Regions from separate parts of the Homo sapiens genome. Here regions 2, 3 and 4 are each reported to be linked to region 1. Evidence: microRNA targets listed by miRTarBase, many of them from high-throughput screens and not tested one by one. Region 1 holds a microRNA gene; each other region holds the end of a gene's coding sequence.

What was found. The annotated mature microRNA hsa-miR-3674 reads AUUGUAGAACCUAAGAUUGGCC and lies in region 1 at 3,586-3,607, shown strand. An mRNA with a match to its seed (bases 2 to 7 or 8) in the 3' UTR can be bound and repressed. Matches are read on the target gene's strand: a 7mer-m8 pairs with bases 2 to 8, a 7mer-A1 pairs with bases 2 to 7 and ends in A, and an 8mer does both.
Region 2: miRTarBase lists KIAA1549 as a target of hsa-miR-3674. Seed matches in the 3' UTR shown: 7mer-A1 at 2,811-2,817, 7mer-m8 at 4,059-4,065 and 8mer at 4,816-4,823.
Region 3: the mRNA of SNRPA1 is a reported target of hsa-miR-3674. Seed matches in the 3' UTR shown: 8mer at 483-490.
Region 4: the mRNA of ILDR1 is a reported target of hsa-miR-3674. Seed matches in the 3' UTR shown: 8mer at 4,480-4,487.

What each region holds. Positions count from the first base shown.
Region 1 is chr8:1,797,548-1,802,878 of GRCh38, forward strand. MIR3674 (microRNA 3674) reads left to right here and starts at 3,578; the gene lies at 3,578-3,645. RefSeq lists enhancers at 2,509-3,708, 3,542-4,203, 4,864-5,331.
Region 2 is chr7:138,833,819-138,839,149 of GRCh38, reverse strand. KIAA1549 reads left to right here. Exons shown (of 20, transcript NM_001164665.2): 20 at 990-5,331. The coding sequence ends at 1,244. Among named protein-coding and RNA genes, the nearest start is that of ATP6V0A4, 38 kb to the right of the region's middle.
Region 3 is chr15:101,276,807-101,282,033 of GRCh38, reverse strand. It overlaps SNRPA1 (small nuclear ribonucleoprotein polypeptide A'), which reads left to right. Exons shown (of 9, transcript NM_003090.4): 9 at 252-524. The coding sequence ends at 310. SELENOS (selenoprotein S) reads left to right here and starts at 4,549. Exons shown (of 6, transcript NM_018445.6): 1 at 4,549-4,692. The coding sequence starts at 4,617. RefSeq lists a silencer at 4,344-4,673.
Region 4 is chr3:121,983,612-121,988,839 of GRCh38, forward strand. It overlaps ILDR1 (immunoglobulin like domain containing receptor 1), which reads right to left. Exons shown (of 8, transcript NM_001199799.2): 8 at 3,712-4,797. The coding sequence ends at 4,756. It overlaps LOC101927010 (a long non-coding RNA gene), which reads left to right and starts at 4,568. Exons shown (of 2, transcript XR_241555.5): 1 at 4,568-5,228.

The DNA of each region.
Region 1 (5,331 bases):
CCATCTCGGTACAGGGGGCTGCTCTCCTTCCAGGTGTTGCAGTCAAAACTTTTGGGATTTTTCTTGATTCCTCTTTCTCTTCAAACCCACTTCCCATCCCGAGGCCCGTCCTGTTGACCTAGCCTGTTCATAATAAAGCCCTGCGCCCTTTCCTCCTCCTCTAGTGGTTGGATGAGTGTTCGTGTACCAGTCACTAATTTGATCCCAGAGTCTCCACTAGAGACAGGAGATGCCTCTGCACACACTGACACACACCGAGTGTCACAGCAATTCCACTGGTGGGAGACAGACACCCCGGAGCATTTCAACAATCGCTTTTCTCTGTTGAAGTTTTCTTCTGCCCCATTCACTGTCTCCTCTGACCACACAATTTGGTTTTGCCTCTTTCTCCATGTCGAAGGCTTCCTTGTGTCTGGTGGTCTTCGACTATTTATTTCTCAGCATGAGGCACTGAGAAAGGATGTGGAACCCCGGGTGTGCGTGTGTGTGTGTGTGTGTGTGTCTGTGGCATAAGGAGGTTTGCCTGTGGGACCGGGGATAACCAGGGAGGCGCGTGGGTCTCATACTGAGGAACTCTTGAATCACGCAGATTTTTCTCATGGGTGTGTTTCCCTGAAAGGAATTCTGGGGTCCCTGGGGTGCGGGGCGGAAGGATCTGTCATGCTGTCCCCTGGGGTGCGGAGCGGAAGGATCTGTGATGCTGTCCCCTGGGGTGTGCGGCGAGAGGATCTGTCATGCTGTCCCCTGGGGTGTGCGGCGAGAGGATCTGTCATGCTGTCCCCTGGGGTGTGCGGCGAGAGGATCTGTCATGCTGTCCCCTGGGGTGCGGGGCGGAAGGATCTGTCATGCTGTCCCCTGGGGTGCGGGGCGAGAGGATCTGTCATGCTGTCCCCTGGGGTGTGCGGCGAGAGGATCTGTCATGCTGTCCCCTGGGGTGCGGGGCGGAAGGATCTGTCATGCTGTCCCCTGGGGTGCGGGGCGGAAGGATCTGTCATGCTGTCCCCTGGGGTGCGGGGCGAGAGGATCTGTCATGCTGTCCCCTGGGGTGTGCGGCGAGAGGATCTGTCATGCTGTCCCCTGGGGTGTGCGGCGAGAGGATCTGTCATGCTGTCCCCTGGGGTGTGCGGCGAGAGGATCTGTCATGCTGTCCCCTGGGGTGTGAGGCGGAAGGATCTGTCATTCTGTCCCCTGGGGTGCGGAGCGGAAGGATCTGTCATGCTGTCCCCTGGGGTGCGGAGCGGAAGGATCTGTCATTCGACTGCCACAACTCTTGGATCCAAGTAGGCAAAGGCCACTGTTCTTTCACTCCTCCTGCTTCCCATTGCTGCCTCAGGATCTCCATGACAGTGTCTTCTGGCCGATTCCTCCTGGGCCCTCCGAGCTGGGCTGGGGCTGCCACCTGCCCTCCTGGGTGTGGAGCAGGACCTGGTGATCCTGTGCCTCCTGCTTTCAGCCTCGCCTGATGTCCCCTTTCAGAGATGCCTGAAAGGCTCTCCCTGTAGCTCCGGTAGCCTCCTCTGGTTGGCCTCACCGGTGCCCATTCGTCCATCATCTGTCCATCTGCCTCCAGCCCTCAGACTTTGCCATGGCCCTCTGCCTTTCACTGTCTTGGCACTGGACCATTGTATTCCTCCTCCTGCTCCTCCTTCTTCTTCTCCTCCTCCTCCTCCTTCTTCTTCTCCTCCTCCTCCTTCTTCTCCTCCTCCTCCCCCTCCCCCCTCCCCCTCCCCCTCCCCGTCCCCCTCCTCCTCCTCCCCCTCCTTCTCCTCCCCCTCCTCCTCCTCCTCCTCCAATTCTTGTTCTTCTTCTTCTTCTTCTTCCTCTTCCTCTTCCTCTTCCTCTTCCTCTTCTTCTTCTTCTTCTTCTTCTTCTTCTTTTTCTTCTAAATGGAGACAGGGTCTCACCATGTTGCCCAGGCTGGCCTTGAATTCCTGGCCTTGAACAATCCTTTTGTCTCGGCCTCCCAAAGAGCTGGGATTACAGGTGTGAGCCACTACACCCGGCCATGCCTTCTATCTTCTTTCTCTACTTTCAACACTTAAATATTTTTAGCCAGGTTTCAGCAGGAAATGGATGGACATGAGGGCTCTGTCTGCCTGTTGGACCAGAAGCCCTTGCATCTGATCTAAACAAACCCCTTCTTGCCTTTGTTAGGGTTTCTGCTTGGTTTTATTCACAAAATTGACGTCTCAACTCTAATATTTATGTTCTTGTCACAGACAACTGTGATAGACTAATCAGTTACCTAATTGTCCTAAACCCAATCTTTTAATAAAATCTGGTTTCTTAGGACCTGGAGCGACAGGTTTGCGAGAAAGCTCCTCCCTGGATGAGGCCAAGAGCGTGGGAGTGAGTTCCAGGCTCCCAGAAGTGGGAAGTATTTTGGAAGTATTTTGGATTTAGGCGGTAAAGAATTCCCTATAAAAATAGCTGAACAGATTGGCCTCATATCACTGTGGGACTTTCTTGGAACATGAGGTGAGGTTATGGGTTGGCTTGCAAATAAAACCAAACACATTTCCCAATGAGGGAATGGGGCTGTGGTTAGGATGGGATCCGTGGGGGTTCTGGGGTGCTGGCAGGGCTCTGCTTGTGATCTGGTTACATAGCTATTTGCTTTATAATCATTTAGTAAATGTGTGATTTGTGAATTCTTCTGCATATGTTTTATTTCACAATAAAATGTCAACTTTTTTTTAACAACTAAGCAAAGTTAAGAACAATGCAGTGTAATTTCCTCGGAAATACGCTTTGACAGTTATTTAATTGGGCAAGTGGAAAATTACTTTTTATGAAGATGGTTTCTGCATATCATGAAAATGCCGTGTGCTGAACCATGCAGTAAGTGAAAGCGTCTAGATAAGGGCAGCCATTTGTTCTTCCCGATAAGGCACTCTCTACTGTTTTCTCTGGAATCAAACTGGCACGCCTGATGACTGGTGTTTTTATAAATCAGTGAGTATTTACATGTCTCAAACAGGCAAGTTTAAAACCACAAAGTCAGGGGCATGTTAAAAATTTGACTTCGGGTCTTAACGATCCACTGATCTTTTCATTTCTTCATTTTGGGTCCGGCTGCTTTGCATGAGGATGTTTTTCTCCCGTCTCTTATTGCCTGGCTTACAGGAGAGTTGGGTGATAGGAACACAAGGAGCAGAGAACGCACTGGCCTCTGACAGCCGCTCTGTGCAGATTCAGTCCTTCAGCCACCCGCAGGAATTGCCGCCAGAGTAGGACATGTCTTCTACCCTCTTGGAAGTGATGAAACCACCTTTCAGAAATTACAGCAGTGAGAAAACTATGACGTTGAAAGATACCTGATCTAACCAACCCCCATCCTGCCTTTGACCTCCAAACTGTCTTTCATCACTCCTAGGCCTGGGCCAAACTAATTTTGGAAGATATTTATAGTTTAAACGATAATAGCCCTTCTCCCGAACTGAACTGCCTGTGTAAAGCTAATGAAAGGCCAGTAGGTTAGGAGGATGAGAGGAGCCTGGATTCTGCTAAAATATAGATGTAAACGACGACCAGCCATTACTCTGGAGGTCACAAGATTTGCAGCTTCTGCAGATAAACATCACTATTGTAGAACCTAAGATTGGCCGTTTGAGATGTCCTTTCAAGTTTTTGCATTTCTGATGTCCGACTGATCCTGTGGCCCCACTCAGAAGCGGACTCCCTGGCCTGCTAAACTACCCTTGAAATACAGTAGCCTCCAAATTTTCAGGGAAATTGATTTAAGTAATGGTCAGGCCTCTGAGCCCAAGCCAAGCCATCGCATCCCCTGTGACTTGCACGTATATGCCCAGATGGCCTGAAGTAACTGAAGAATCACAAAAGAAGTGAATATGCCCTGCCCCACCTTAACTGATGACATTCCACCACAAAAGAAGTGTAAATGGCTGGTCCTTGCCTTAAGTGATGACATTACTTTGTGAAAGTCCTTTTCCTGGCTCATCCTGGCTCAAAAAGCTCCCCCACTGAGCATCTTGCGACCCCCACTCCTGCCCGCCAGAGAACAAACCCCCTTTGTCTGTAATTTTCCTTTACCTACGCAAATCCTATAAAACGGTCCCACCCTTATCTCCCTTCGCTGACTCTCTTTTCGGACTCAGCCCGCCTGCACCCAGGTGAAATAAACAGCCATTTTGCTCACACAAAGCCTGTTTGGTGGTCTCTTCACACGGACGCGCATGAAAGGAATAACTCCATCTCCCACGTGGCGTGGCTGGCCTCGTGTCAGTTAAACTTTCTTTATTGCAACACCATGGTTTCAGTGAATTGGTTTTCTCTGTGCAGTGGGCAGGAGTTTTAATTTCTTAATTTTGTAGCCAGCCTTCAGGCGGTGACAGTGATTGGACAATCACTTTAGTAGCATGAGATACTGAGGCTACTGCACTCGGATGGAATGGGCAGGAAACATGACTTGAATGCACCATGGACTCTACACCAGCATCTGTCCCCTGCAAAAGGGGCTCTGGGAACTAGAACAGTCATTCCCACCTTCTGAGCGCATTAGATCACTGCAGGGAGCATTGGAACGTGCTTTCCTGGGCCGCTCTGGGCCCAGGCTCCCATGTGAGCATCCGTTTTAAACCAAAAATAAAATTCCGAAAACCAAAAGCCCCCCATCCAACTGAATGGACCCCTACTCTTGGCCAAGAGGATTCCAAACAAACCTGAAAAACAAGTCAGGCCGGACGGGAAGGGGAGGGTCTGATACGCCTCATTGTATCCTCTCCCTTTGGGGTCAGGAACAGCCGATGGCATTAACATTAACACAGAGACCTTCGGACTGACCAGACAGGCTCTGGAAGTGATAGGAACAAGGCCTAGGGTGCAGGAGGAGCCTCGAGGGCTCAGCTGGGCTAGCCTGGGTGGAGGGGCCACAAGAAACCCCTGAAATGACAGAGGTCAAGTTTCATGGCCAGAAAGACTGGAGTCAGAGTGAGGAAGGGGGATGCAGTGGCCAGCCTTTGCTGGGAGCTGCCTCTGTGGCCACACCCAAAACTCCTCCCCCTGCATCGGCCACTCCAGTCCTTACGGTGGAACCACAGGCTCTTGTGAAAGGAAGATAAATCTCGAGACCCCAAGTCACTAAGCCAAAGGGAAGAATCAAGCTGGGAACTGCATCAGGGAATCCCGCCTCCCATTTTACTTAAAACTGCAGATGCAGGCTGGGCATAGTTGTTCACACCTGTAAGACCAGCACTTTAGGAAACTGAGGCAGGAGGATTGCTTGAGTCCAGGAGTTTGAGACCATCCTGGGCCATGTAGCCAGGCCCTGTCTCTAAAAAATAAGAAAAAAATGCAGATTCACTAAGCCAG
Region 2 (5,331 bases), not on the chromosome of region 1:
TGCTTCCCTAAAAGAGACATTGTTATACTTAGAGTCTCAGGTATCTGCTTTAAGTTTGCTGCCATTTCTCTTTTTTTGCCTTCATTTTGCCCAGCTTAGCTTCATGAGGTGTTTGGGGTTGGTTTTGGTGTTTTGTTTTTTTGAAAAAATGGAGGCAAGGTCTCACTATGTTGGCCAGGCTGGTCTTGAACTCCTGGCCTCAAGCAATCCTCTCTCCTTGGCCTCCCAAAGGATTGGGGTTACAAGTATGAGACACCGTGCCTGGCATGGTGTGTTAAGGTTTTCCTGTCACATCCACTTTGGAACACTGCTCGGTCACTATTTGGAGAAGTGAAACGTAGAAAGAACCTAGAGCTGGAATGTCATGTTTGGCTCACAAATAACTTAGCCCTAACATGGTTTTTAGTACGCAGATTTAAGTACTCTTACATATAAATGCAAAGAGACATTTATTTCCACTGGGAGAGAAATAAACATGAAAAAAAAATCTGAAAAGTGTAATAATTCTTGTGAAACTCCTGCCAAATTAATCTCTATGCGGCAAATATCAGCAAAACTATTTTATGCTTTAGTGCAGATAAGTTTTTAAAGACAAGGCTCTACAGAGCCCTCAGTAGACACACACTCACGCAGAGACAGGAGACAGACAGCAGCTAGATAAAGCAGAAGATGGTTGCGTAGGCTCCAGTCCAGGGCAGAGGCACCTGTTCCCCTTGTCAGCCTGGCATGGATCCGCTTAACCTCCTTCAGCTCTCAGATATCACCCGACCTTTCACATCATGGGGCACTCCAGCCTCCCTCCCTTCTGTTCTCCCCAGCCCCCTGGTGTCTTCACGCCTCACCTGCAGCATAGGCAGCAGGGCCCTGTTAGAGGGCTGAGTTGGTGGATGGACGTGGGCAGTCCTGGGAACCTTCCTAAAGCCAGTTTGCATTTGATGTTTCGGCTTATTCTTCGTAGGAAGTACAGTGACGTTTGCCATGTTTTTCAGACACACATGCTCGGACATCAAGAGTATTCTTCTTCACCGCTATTTCAGGTGCCAAGGACTTCAGGCAGGGAGCCCTCAGCTCCTTCCGGGAACCTCCCCCACCGGGGACTGCAGGGCCCTGGGCTGGGTTACCCCACCAGCTCCACGGAAGACCTCCAGCCTGGCCACTCCTCGGCCTCTCTCATCAAAGCAATCCGCGAGGAGCTCCTCCGGCTCTCCCAGAAACAGAGCACCGTGCAGAACTTCCACAGCTGATCGGCCTCGCCTCGCAGATTTGCCAAGTATCCGCTTCCTGTGGAAGCAAGACCAAAAGGAAATCAACTGAGTGGGTGTTTGGAAGAGGAAGGAGCAACTCTCGGGCAGCCTGCCCAAGGGAGGGAGCAAGTTGCAATTTAGAAGATGCCATACGTCGTGTGACAGCTCATGAGCCTTTCACTGGGCTGGCAATTGTCTGAACACTTGGGTTCAGTTGAAATATATGTATTTTGGCCAAAAGCCAGCAGCACTTCACAAAAACAAAACACAAACCTAAGCTAACAAAATGACTGCATTCGTCTCTTTTTTAAAGGTAGAGATTAAACTGTATAGACAGCATAGGGATGAAAGGAACCAAGCGTTTCTGTGGGATTGAGACTGGTACGTGTACGATGAACCTGCTGCTTTGTTTTCTGAGAAGAGGTTTGAAGACATTTTATTAACAGCTTAATTTTTCTCTTTTACTCCATAGGAACTTATTTTAATAGTAACATTAACAACAAGAATACTAAGACTGTTTGGGAATTTTAAAAAGCTACTAGTGAGAAACCAAATGATAGGTTGTAGAGCCTGATGACTCCAAACAAAGCCATCACCCGCATTCTTCCTCCTTCTTCTGGTGCTACAGCTCCAAGGGCCCTTCACCTTCATGTCTGAAATGGAACTTTGGCTTTTTCAGTGGAAGAATATGTTGAAGGTTTCATTTTGTTCTAGAAAAAAAAAATCCCTCCCAAAGTGGGGCAAAAAGCTTTATATTTATTTGATTATCCAAAATACAGATCAAAGTTTAGATCTACATTCTTCATTGTATTTGCTGTTTCTTAATTGGGCACACACAACTCCTGGTCATGTCCCAGTTCAGCACCGATCGCTAAGGCCGATCCTGTAGAATGCGGCTTTCAAGAGGTCCTAACTGATCCTTTCTTCCACTTTGCTGTTGATTTGTTCACAAATTATGTCTGAATGAGAAATCTTCTGTAAGCAGAAGTTATTTAATAATTCCCAGCACCACGAAATTGTTATACATACATCCCTACCAGTCACATTCCCTGTGTTCAGAGCCTGGAAATGAAATTGAGTTCAGTTCAGCCTCTCTGTAATGAATCAAGAAATGTAAAAGAGCTTTGAGACCCCAAGGGAAAGGAGAGAGTTGCTTCTCATTTCTGATTTTATTGTGCTGTTACTCTGTCGAGTGGCTATTAAAATTGTCTTATGCTCTTTGGGCTAAGAGGGGATCATCTCGCTTAAGATGTACTCCTGATGTAAACATTTCCCCCACTTTCCAAATAATGGTAAAGAAAACAGTGGCAAGGGCTGTTCTGTTTTCTGGTACCTGAGTGAAACTCAGAAGAAAAGCAGGCTTAGCTAAGAGATTTTCACTATTAACCTGTTTTTATTAGATCAGCGAAGACAGTCATGCATCGCTTAATGATGGGGATGCATTCTGAGAAATGTGTCATTAGGCTGTTTTGTTGCTGTGCCAACATCCTAGATTGTACTTACACAACCTACATGGTATAGCCTACTACACACCTGGGCTGTGTGGCATGGCCTATTCCTCTTAGGCTACAAACCTGTACAGCATGTTACTGTACTGAACACAATGGTAAGTATTTGTGTATCTAAACATAGCTAAACATAGAAAAGGTATGGTAAAAATACAATTTTATAATCTTATGGGACTACCATCAATATGTAGACCGTCATTGACCAAAACATCCTGATGTGTGCATGACTGTACTTTTCATTAAATAACAGATAAGGGGCTATAGAATTTGGGGCTCTGACTGATCAAAACCTGTGTATCTGTGTCAAGTTTTAAGACCCCTGAAACAGCTAAAACAGGTTTCCAAAGTGTAATCACTGGATTTCAAAACCATGTTTTAGCCCTTCATTAATGAAGCCTGTTGTACAGATTTAGAGTCTTACAATATGAGGGAAGTTGGTTCTGGGAAGGTAAGATGTAGCCAGTTTTCATCTGGGCACCTCTGAAAGAGAAGGAGTGCAGGAGAGTAAGTCTCTCAAGGACGTTCAACAAAGGACCAGCAGCATCTTATCAGGCGATCCTCAGAGGCTCCAAGGAGCATTGGAGAGAATGCCCCTTTCTGGGCTTGATGTCTTGGTTTTGGTTTAATACCAAATTTCTCTTGGTCTTGGTTTAATACCCGACTCCTCCCAAATTGAACGATTATCTTTGTATGTCACTCAAAAATACCAGGTTTCCTGAATATGTTATTAAGAATTTCAGATATCCAAGCAGAATTTTATTATGGACACCTTGTAATGAATTCAAATCGTGTGACAGCAAACGGGATAAATGGCCCCTTCTCACCCAGTTCCGCTCAGGGCCATACAGGCTTGCACATAGAGTGTGCTAAAAATGGTAACCTCCTTTGAGCATTGCAGAAAGAGGGTTCTGTTTCAAATTGGGCTGACCGTAAAAGCAATTTTGATGTCTTTCAAACTACCATAAAGGGATTTTAACTGTATTTTTATTCTTAGAAACAATACACCTTTAAACAGATGTCAAGACCAAAGATGATGTATAATAAACAGCCGGTGGTTATGGTGTGGTGTGAGCAGGCCCCCGGATCACCAGCCCTCTGCTGGTGGTCATAAAGCACACACAGTTTGTACTTGCTTCCTCTCGACGCCTGCCACAACAGTTTTGCCAGTCACCAAACTCAGAAAAAACTAGCTGTGTGAGCAGCACCGTACCCTAGCGGTCTTCAGACATTAAGTTCACGTCATCCACTGAAAGGAAGGGTCCTTGCGTTGACAGCGTGTGGCTTTGGAGTCCGTTTATGGAAGCACTCTACAATGAACAGTTGAATTTTATGTCTATTCTTTTTTCCTATTTTAAAAGTTCTAGTGGTAACACAAACTGTAAATTTGAGTCAGAATGTTTGGAGAAATGTTGTTTTTTTTTTTTTCAGAGACTACTTTGTCACTCACTGACCATGTCTGGTTCCTTCTCTGAACTTCATTCTCCCCATAAGCCAAACAAGAACAGACCTCCCCCGCCACCTCCCAGGCACCGTAGTTGTGAGAATCAGATGTGATCATGTGTGCAGATGTCCTGTGAGGAGGGAGCATAAAGCACTGTGAAAATGTAGCATGCTGTCTATGTGGACGCCCTAGGATGAGTGATGTGAAACGCTGCACTACTGCGGTGAATGGGTTCACACATGGGTAATGAGCAAAACCGAAAGCTCGGTGTGACTCAGTTTCCTCACTCCCATTTTGCTTTAATTTCACTTCCTTCACCAATTTTCCGATTGCATTTATTAAGCATCTTTCTGCTCCCGACTTTCTGGTGTCTCTGGCACCAAATAACCCAGCAGACATGAGCCTTGCCTTCTGAGATTTTAGAATCTAAGATAGCACGAGTGGGTATAGAAGATGGAAGATACCGATAAATAACATGGTTTAAGTGTCAATAAAATTCATTCGAAGAGATCAGGCGCGGTGGCTCACGCCTGTAATCCCAGCATTTTGGGAGGCTGAGGCAGGTGGATCACTTGAGATCAAGAGCTTAAAACCAGCCCAGGCAACATGGCAAAACCCCGTCTCTACAAAAAAATACAAAAACTAGCTGGGTGTGGTGGCGCATGCCTGTAGTCCCAGCTGAGGCACGATAATTGCTTGAACCCGGGGGGTGGAGGTTGCAGTGAGCTGAGATTGCACCACTGTACTCCAACCTGGGCGACAGAGCAAGACTGTGTCTCAAAAAGAAAAAAATTTGTTCAAAAGACATAAATGAATTAGGCACCCAGAAGAAGTTGCATGTTTGGAAATGCAATATCTTGGGGAGACGTCAACTTCTGAAGTGACTTTGAAGGCAGGGCAGCTACCCAGGCAAATGGCGTGGAAGGAAGAGCTGAGAGTGGGCCTGGGAAAGGCTGTAGGGAAGGAGTGAAGCTGTCACTGAAATGAACTTGATCTTGATCTGCTTTGATATGGGGACAGAATCCCCGACTGCACTATTGAGGGAGTTTCAGAAGAGAAGGAAGAGGTGCTGGAAGGATGCTTTTGCAGTCATGCAGCAAGGAAACGACCAGGGCTGTGAAGATCTACAGAGGAAGTA
Region 3 (5,227 bases), not on the chromosome of region 1:
TACAATGGGAGGCAACAATTTTGAAATCTTTGTGACCCTTTTCCTTTGAAATTGAGCATCCCTTCCAGTACCTGCCAAAGACAGACTAGACCGTCCCTGGACGATAAGCTCCTCAAAGGCAGGTGCTGCTTTTGATCTTTTTGTACCTACTTCAGTGTGTAACAAACAGTGGCCACAGAACAAACACTTGCATGCTAAGGGAATGGATTCTCTAAAATTGATACTACTTTTGCTTTGGTGGTTTTCTTTAGGGCCCACTGATGATGGTGAAGAAGAGATGGAAGAAGACACAGTCACAAACGGGTCCTGAGCAGTGAGGCAGATGTATAATAATAGGCCCTCTTGGAACAAGTCTTGCTTTTCGAACATGGTATAATAGCCTTGTTTGTGTTAGCAAAGTGGAATCTATCAGCATTGTTGAAATGCTTAAGACTGCTGCTGATAATTTTGTAATATAAGTTTTGAAATCTAAATGTCAATTTTCTACAAATTATAAAAATAAACTCCACTCACTATGCTACCAAGTTGTGTGTCATCATGGTGCATTTGCAGTGAGGTCTAAGGACACGTTGAAATTGGAAATGCAGGAGGGCAGCGTTTTCTCGGTAGGCTTCCTGGGCTGGATTAGCGTCTGGCTCCTGCAGTGTCATGACACATGCCAGGAAGGCCGCCTTTTCCACTCCCACATAGCCCTTCTGTTAGTGCAGACTTACCTGTCGCTCCGGCTTCTGATAGGACAACTGAAATGATTCCATTTTTGAAATTGATTGGTGTGTCCCACCAAACCTGGCTATGTTTTTTGTTTTTTTCTCCCCCGCCCCCAGGCTGGTCTCCAACTCTGGCTTCAAGTGATCCTCCCGCCTTGGCCTCCCAAGGGAGTACAGGCCTGAGCCACCATACCCAGCCTTTAGTTTTATATATGTACATAGTTAACATAAAGGTCATATGGAGAGTCTACAAGAACATTTGTTGAAAGGGGCGTAAGTTACTCATATTTGAAGAACACTACTGTTTCATTGCCATCTCTCTGATCCCCCTTAGCCACGACAGTCTTAATCCCATCTTGTTGCATATACTTTTGTGAAAAGCTTGGCACTTTATCAGTTAGCTCTTGCTGCAATAATGCTGTATAACAATCCACCCGAAAACTCAGGGTTTTGTTTGTTGTTTTTTTTTTGAGACGGAGTCTTGCTCTGTCCCCCAGGCTGGAGTGCAGTGGCGCGATCTCGGCTCACTGCAAGCTCCGCCTCCTGGGTTCACAGCATTCTCCTGCCTCAGCCTCCCAAGTAGCTGGGACTACAGGCGTCCGCCATCACGCCCGGCTAATTTTTTGTATTTTTAGTAGAGATGGGGTTTCACTGTGTTAGCCAGGATGGTGTCAATCTCCTGACCTCATGATCCTCCCGCCTCGGCCGCCCAAAGTGCTGGGATTACAGGCGTGAGCCACCACGCCTGGCCAAACTCAGGGGTTTTAATCAACAACACTATTATGTAGTTGGCTCTGCTTATCACTGTAGGTCTGGATTAACTGGGGTGGCTTGGTTTCTTTACAGGTCTCAGATAAGCCAGCTCACCCGGCAAAGGCACAAGAAATAAACACTAGGAGCTTCTTAAGGCCTACCTACACTCAAAACTGACACACTTATTTCTGCCCACTTGATATTAACCAAAGCAAGCCACCTCGCCAAGTACAAAGTCAAAGGATGATGGGGAAATATACTCCTTTGACCTTGCCATAGCAAGGATATGGCTGTGAGAAGGAGTGACAAATTAGGGCCACTCTTTCAGCCTCGGCCAATCATTTAGCCTACAACAGTCAGTGATAGGTGGCAGCCCTGGTTACTGTCCACCTTTGTCCTCTTTTTGCAAATAATACCTGAGCAATTACATTGAGCAAAGTGTTTGTTGAAATACCTTTCCAGTTCTAGACAAGCCAAGCCAGGTGAGGTTATAACACCTGATTAAAGGGACAAAGGTAACAAATTCCTGGCTAGGATGAGTAACTTCTATCAATAGGACCATAAGATCAATGTGCTAGGAACTGAAAAGCCATCATCCATGCATTCAAATAATATCTATTAGATTTTAGTGGAATATATGCATTATATGTATATATGTATACAATAGTTCACAATAGTTTACAAGGATACTTTGGTTTTCTATATGCTTAGAATGTGCATTATTTTCATGAGTTAATACTGGTTTCCATTTTATATCGCAAAGTCCTGAGTGAAAAGGATTGTTGCCTTTTTTTAATGATAGAACCTAAAATGTTACAATTTATTCCATCTTTGTGATTACAGACATTACAGGATAAGGTAGCTAAACAAGGCAAATAAAGCAAACGTTCCCTTCATTTAATCAGATGCAACATTTTGGCATTTTTATACTGTGCACGTTGACTTTAATTCATTGACATGGATTGAAAGCCGGCAACAACAAATCTTTGCAATTTAGGATCTTCTTCCATAACTAAGTTTTGTGGGTTTTTTTTCTTTTCTTTTCTTTCTTTTTTAGACAGTCTTGCTCTGTCATCCAGGCTGTGGAGTGCAGTGGTACAATCTTAGCTCACTGCAACCTCTGCCTCCCAGGTTCAAGCGATTCTCCTGCCTCAGCCTCCCTAGTAGCTGGGATTACAGGCGCCCGCCATCACACCTGGCTAATTTTTGTATTTTTAGTAGAGACAGGGTTTCACCATGTTAGCCAGGCTGGTCTTGAACTCCTGACCTCAGGTGATCCATGCACCTCGGCCTCCCAAAGTGCTGGGATTACAGGCGTGAGCCACCGTGCCTGGCCAAATTTTTTTGTAGAGATGGGATCTTGCTGTGTTGCCCAGGCTGGTCTTGAACTCCTGGCCTCAAGTGATCCTCCTGCCTCAGCCTCCTAAAGTGCAATAGGATTACAGGCAAGAGCCACCACTCCTGGCCCACTGCAACATTCTTGAAGCTCTCAAGTCTTCATCTGACACCTTGTCAAGATGGGGAACTCTTGTGTTAAACCATCCTGTTAAGTTACTGTATAAAAATAAAACTGCTCCCAAGCATTGATTGAAACTGTTTTGGTATGAGTTTCCTGAGAGAAAAGTGAGGCCCTAACCATTTTTTTCCATGAACTATGACCCCAGTACGGTATACCTAATGTCCTTCACAGCCTAACAAAATAGTTGAGGCAACCCTGCTCATCCTGTCTAGTTTATCAGTATTTAGATGTAAGGCGGATTTAAAGCTAATCTGGGACTGAGAATTGCAACTAATTCCATAGAAGTCATTCAATTTAGCACATAAATGTTCCTGCAAGATGCCAGAGCAAGTGAGAAATCATCTGTAGCAAAGCAAAGAGTGGTGATGGTTCATCACCTTTTACAACGGAAAGGCAAACATGAAGAAGGAAATTCTCCCTCCTAAAATTCCTCATTAAATCGATAAGCTATCTTCACAGCCTTTATGGATAACATCCAGAGTCCTCGGTTCATCTGAGGAGTCCATTTTCAAGGTGGCCAACAGGGAAGAAGAGCTTTCAGGCTTCTCTTTGCTATGGCTCATGAATGCCAGGTCCCCTTTATTGCTTTCTGAACACACTGCTGGGAAAGCTTGATGAGGTCAGTGCTCAAATCCCTGCAGCTGTCCCCCTTGAGGAACTTCTTGGCAAACCTGCATTGAAGAAACACTGATTGCGTTCACGCTTCATGTCATGGTTTGCCTTCCCCACACTGCTCCTGGCGACAGTGGTGACGCAGCACTCGGATGTTGTCACCTATTCATTATTTTTTCAGTTCTATTCCCAATTCCCAACCCTTCTTTTGAAACACAGCTAGGTATGTGCACTTCAAATGCTCCAGAAAAACCCAAGGTCACATTTCAAATAGGATGGTTATGGTCACCATAAAGGTGGTGACGTTTGAGTGGTGGAAGAGGGTGCGGGACGGCGTTGCAGGCAGAGGAACACAGCCAGGACACTATTATAAGTAACTCTGTGATCGTGTCTTGTGGTGATACAGTATAATTCAACACAGGTTAGAGCAGTTACTATGATCGTTCTTTCCTAAAAGGCTTTGATTTTGGAGAAAGAACCTTGAGGATCGGTGGGGACTTTCTTGGCCTGAAAGGTATCACCAGCAGCAGGAGCAGGAGGCTGCTCACATTTCGTGTCTTCACTTGGGGTGGACGTTGGCTGCAACCCTCAAATGCTGGGAGTCGTCAACCAACTGAGCCCTGTTGTCCAATGTGCCCCGGGCAAGGATGTGGGTGCAAATCCTGCTTCCGGGCGACCACTGACTTCCTTGGCTTCAGTGTCCAATTAGAAAAAAAAAAGAAAGTAGAAATTCGGTAAGAAATCCGTGAACGAGGTCCGTCCTCCACCCCCGACTCAAGCCAAGAGATAGCACAGAACGTTCCCACACGCGCTGTCCCGGCCCCGGCGAGCGTAGCCGGGATTTCTCCCCCGCCACGCCCCTCGGCCACGCCCCCCTGCGTTTGGCCCAGCGACGGGGCGGGGTCGGCCTGCGATTGGCCGGGACCACGACCGCGTCCGGGCGCGCCACGTGTGCGTAGGAGCGCACCGGAAGCGCCCGGCTGGAGGCGCGGCGGCAGGGCTGGGCGGCGGCGGCGGCGGCGGTCATGGAACGCCAAGAGGAGTCTCTGTCCGCGCGGCCGGCCCTGGAGACCGAGGGGCTGCGCTTCCTGCACACCACGGGTGAGTCGTTGCGGGGCAGCCGGGCGCGCGCCGCCACTTTTGCGACGCGCAGCCATGATGGGTGGGTCGTCCGCCGCTGCACCGGGCGCCGGAGCCTGGGAGGCCTGGGAACGGTCGGGCGTTGGCGCTTACGCGGACCTTGGGCAGCAGGCCCGGACCTTGCGCGGAGGCTTCTCGGGAGCCGCACTTCCCTGGGCGGCTCGGCTGTCCCTTGTTTGCGCAAGTCTTTTTTGCGAACCAAGCCCTTCCTGTGGTAGTTACTGGGGTCACTCGGCCGTTGGCGTTTGCCTCTGGGACCCGTCCCACACAGCCCCATACACACTCCTGACTCCCCGCGCTGTCACCCCTTTCTATGTGGCTCTGAAAGGCCTTTGCCTTCCTGATTCAGATTAGTTGCTCTTCATTCTTCAAAACCCAGTTGCTGTGCCCTCCACACTCTAACTGCCCCCGACTCCCCAGATGGTTGGGAAGTCTCACTTCTCAGTGATCCCTGAATTGTCGCACTTCTTGAGTTCGTGTTTTAACGATCTACTTA
Region 4 (5,228 bases), not on the chromosome of region 1:
TGAATTTTCTTCTTAGTACTGCTTTAGCTGCATCCCACATACTTTGATATGTTTTCATTTATCCTTTTAATTTCCTTTGAGACTCCCTGTTTGACCCATAGATTATTTAGAAGTGTGTTATTTAATTTTCAAGTGTTTCAAGAGTTTCCTGTTGTCTTTGTTAGAGATTTTCAGTTTAATTCCATTATGGCCAGAGCACATGATTTCAATTCTTTTAAATTTGTCAAGTTTGTTTTACTATATATTTTATGTCTTTTTCTATTTGATGACTAGTGCATGGGCAATTGAGAAAAATGTATTGTTAGGTGGTATGTCTTATGAATGTTAATTAGACCCTGTTGATTGATTGTGTTGCTCAGATTTTCCATATCCTGGTGATTTTTCTACTTCATAGTTCTATTAGTTACTGGGGAAAGGGGAGAATGATGTTGAAGTTCCCAACCATAATTACAGATTCTGCTATTTCTCATTTCAGCTTTATCAATTGCTGCTTCAGGTATTTAAGGCTCTGTGGTTTAGTTTGTACACATTTAGTATAATGCGTCTTCCTAATTGATCCTCTTATCATTATATAATATCCCCTTTGTCTCTGGCAATTTTCTTTGCTTTGCAGTCTACTTTATCAAACACTACTATTGCCACTCCTGTTTTTTTAAAAAAGTATTAATGTGTATGTGATATATCTTTTTCCACCCTTTTTTACTTTCAACTCACCTGTGTTTGAACTTGAAATGAGTTTCTTATATGCAGCACATAGGATTATGGATGGTTTTTAACTCAGTCTACCAATGTTTGTCTTTTGATTGGTATATTTAGACCATTTACATTTAAGGTCCAGTGTTTACTGATATTTTAGCACTTTAGTCTGTTATTTTGTTATTTATTTTCTATTTGTCTCCTCTGGTTCTTATTTATCTTTCTTGCCTTTCTGCAGCTTATTTAAACATGTTTTAGATTCCATCTTGATTTATTTGTAATACTTCTGAGTTTGTCACTTTGTATAGTTTTCATAGTGGTTGCTCTGGGTGTTACACATGCTACTTATAACAATGTACTGGTATCAATATTCACCACTTCAAATGAAGTGTGGAAACCTCACTTCCATTCAGGTCTCTTTGGCTTCCCCACCTTTAAATATCATTGTTTTAAGTATCAGATGGTGTTACAATTTTTGTTTCAAACATAAAATATATTCTCTAAAACCCATAAGGAAAAAATTGTCTATTGTATGAACCAGTATTTCTGCTCTATTGTTTCTTCTTCCTTCCTGATGTTCTAAGTTTCCTTCTTTTATAATTTGAAGAACTTCCTTTAGCTAGTCTTTTATGGGTAGATTGGCTAGTCACAAAATCTTTTAGTTTTCATTCATCTGTTAATGTTTTTATAATCCCTTCATTTCTAAGAATGTTTTGTTTGTTTTCAAAAGATAATTTTGCTAGATCTAGAATTATAGGAGATGATTCTTTTCTTTCATCCCTTAAAAAATATTTGGCCACTTCCTTATTTATGGTTTCAGATAAGAAATCCATTCAAATTGGTGTTCCCCTACAAGTAATGCACTGTTTCTCACTTGCTGCTTCCAGGACTTTGTTTTTAGTTTTCAAAAAATTATAATGTGCCTGGGCATGGATTTTTTTTTTCTTCTGTGGGATTCATCCGGCTTCTTGAATCTCTAAGTTAGTGTCTTCTATCTAATTTGGAATGTTTTCAGCCTTATTTTTTCAAATATTCATGTCTACCCTTTTTCTCCTTTACTTTCTGTTACTCCGATAATATGAATGCTGGATATTTTGTTATTGTTCCATAGGTCCCTGAGGTCTGTTTATTTTTTCCGGTTTATTTTCTCTCTATTGTTCAGATTGGGTAAATTCTATTGTTCTGTCCTCAAGTTCACAGATTTTTATCCCCCATCATCTCTACTGTACCATTAAGCCTATCCAGTGAGTTTTCAGTTTTTGTATTTTTCAGTTCTATAATTTTCATGTTTCCTTTTGATAAAACTTCTATTTCTATTTTTCTGAGGTTTTTCTGTTTTTTCATGTTTCAAGAGAATTTGTAATTGATTGTTGTAGCATTTTTATGATGTCTGCTTTAAAATTCTTATCAGATAATTTCCAATATCTGGTTCATCTCAATGCTGGAATCCATTGATTTCCTTTTTCACTCAAGTTGTGATTTTATTGTTTCTTGATTTGCACTCTGAACATTTTGCCTATTATGTTAGGAGACTGATTTCTATTTAAATATTTTGTTTTGCAAGGAATCACTCTGTTTAGGTTTAGCATACAGTTTTAGCCTACTTTTGTGGGCTGTAATTCTAATGGCAGCTTAATTTTCAGAGCCCTTGCAGTGTTATTTTAGTTGCTTGGTTTATGTAGGGCTCCCACTGGTCTCTGTTACTGCTGCCTGAAAGGGCAGGAGGAATTTCCCTGGCTGGGTTGCCAAGTGTCTCTTGGTGAGGGTGGGCTATGATAAATCCTGCAGATGCCTCTAGCTGCCCAGATTTCTCTGGGCCTGGGAGGAGAGTCTTGCTTCCACATCGTGGCTTCTGTGACCAGGTTGCTGGCTTCAGAGATGTCGTCTGTGACAGGTCCCTTTTCCTGGTTCTACCAGCCAATCCTAGTATCTCTGGGCAGGAGAGGACAGTCTTAGGCCTGTGCAAAAAGGCTTCCCCAACTGGACCACCTATTTTTCCTAGGTTTCTCTTACTAGCTCCTCCTGTCCACCTCAGTATCTTTTCTTGGAAAAGAGGAGTTTCTGACCCAGCAGGGAATAAGGGTGCTTCCCCTGGTCACTTATTTTTTTTGTAGGCCTCTCAATCAGTCCACTTATTTTTTTGTAGGACTCTCAATCAGTCCCCTTGCCTGAGGTTGCCAGAGGGACTCCATTAGGTTCAGGGGGAAGAATGAGCTACTGGGCTACCTTCTGCTGCTAGATGGAAAGTCAGGAAATACCTTCTGATAGGGGGATATAAAATGCCCTGCCTCTGTGCTGTTCTTCTGGTCCTGGGTTTTCAAACCAACCTGCTTTCTTCTTAACACCCTTTAGAATCCTTTGGTTTTCTCTTGTACCATTTCCAAAATTTATTAAGTTGTGCTTAGCAGGGCATAGCAGGGGAAATGGGACAATGCCATCTTGTCCAGACCAGAAGTCTCTCACCTACTGAATGTTACGTCTACATTATCTGTAAATATATATATATTTTCGCTAATTTAGATCCAATTAAATATGAATAATCAAAAAATCCCAGAGAAGTCTACCTAATGCAGAAATTTAACCTATTTTCTCCACATGTAATTAAATTAATGAGACTGGGGGAAAATGGATGTGTCAATAAATGGGATCTAAAGTGAGCACGTAAGGATATACTGTTAAAGAACATACACACATACTCTCCTTCACTCAGGCCACCTCCTTCCAATCTGCTCAGTGTGGATCTCTCCGTCAAGCACAGATGGATTCATGAAGCCTCCAAAGGGGCTTCGAAAAATGGGAGGGGGTGGTAGAGCCTATTATAGTGAAAATACAGTCCTTTCTTCCTGGGGCCCTCTGAGTGGCAAGACCTGCCTGGATGCTTCTGCTTGGGAAATCTCAACTCTGAAAGGCTGAGTAGTGCCAGGAGAATGGTAGCTCCAGAACTCCCTAGGTTGGTCGGGGTCTTCTCTGAACTTTAGTGGTGAAGGTGGCTTAATCCAATCAAATGCACCAAAGTAGGAAAGCAGATATTTATTTGGAGCAGCATGCTCAGCTTGGCATGTTTTCTTTCTTCCTTATTTATATACTGTGTCATTCCCAAGAAGGATTTAAAGTGACTTCAATCAATACACAATATATATGAAAATATAAATTAGATATACAGGTAAAAAAAGAGCAAGAGGAAAACAAGGCACAGGAATAAGGCTGGTGCAAAACTGCTTCTCTGTGATTTTCTACACTTACAATAAATAGTCCATTTATGGGCTGGCAGGATAAACTCCTAACAAGAAAGGACCCTCAAGACATGCCATGGAGGAAGATACATTCCCATGGGAATGTCCCTATAATACTCCATAGATTTCCTTTTCCTGAAACATGTTTGATTTCTTCTTAAACATTCCCAAGTTCTCATTTTGAGAATGGCCAGGGTTCTGGGCAGTGTAGTCTACTGAAAGACTCAGGCTACTAAGTTCCTGAGGGATCACATTCCAGTCAGGGTCCATTACAAGTCAGAGATTATATAAATATGCAAGAGAGCATGAACCAAGGCTAAAACTACAGTTGGTAATTCCTCGAACTCTAACTTTTTTGTTTTTTGGCCTTTTGGGTTTTTTAGTAATGGGGACTTGCTCTATTGCCCAGGCTGGAATACAGATGTGTGATCATGGGATCCTGGCTCATTGCAGCCTTGCACTCCTGGGCTCAAGGGATCCTTCTGCCTCAGCCTCTTGAGTAGCTGGGACTACAAGTGCATGCCACCACACCTAACTAATTTTTATATTTTTTGTAGAGACGGGGTCTCACTATGTTTCCCAGGCTGATCTTGAACTCCTAGTCTCAAGTGATTCTTAGCCTCCCAAAGTGCTGTGATTACAGGTGTGAGCCACTATACCCAATCTCAAACTCTTGTATTTAAAATTCTTCTATTTGATTCTCAGAATCTAAGCCAAAAACTGTTAGACTCAGACTTGCAGTTCCCAAGTCAGCTGGAAACCTAGGTGATGCTGATGACACACAGGAGCCGAGAAGTAGCCACAGAAGTTGTGCTGTGCTTGGTGACTAAATGACCACACTCCTTCCACTATGAGAGCTGTCTTTCTCCTGGGAAATAGAAGAATACACACACAAAAAAAATCCAGTCAGTGCAATCCGTCTATGCATGTAACACATAATGTGCTCTTGATTTACAAATCCTAAGTGGGTGGTGGCTGCCAGGACAGCAGATCTGAACCTAAAAAGTATTTCTTTACTCTTCATGAAACCAATCTCTCTCCCCAGGCTTAGGTTTTTCTTGCTTACCTCTCTAGAGACTCCCTCAAATACCTTTAATTTCTGAAAATTTCTTCCAGTCTAATTCACTCTGCCTCTTGCTCTGTTTTCTAATACCTTCAAGTCTCCCTTAGACTGAAAAAGGGGTACCCTGTTCCATTCTTCAGTCCATCTCTCTCCCATTCATTCATGAAGACATTGCTCAGTTCTCTTTTTCCTTTTTATAATCTCCTGAATCATTCCTTCCCAGCCCTTTTCTAAAA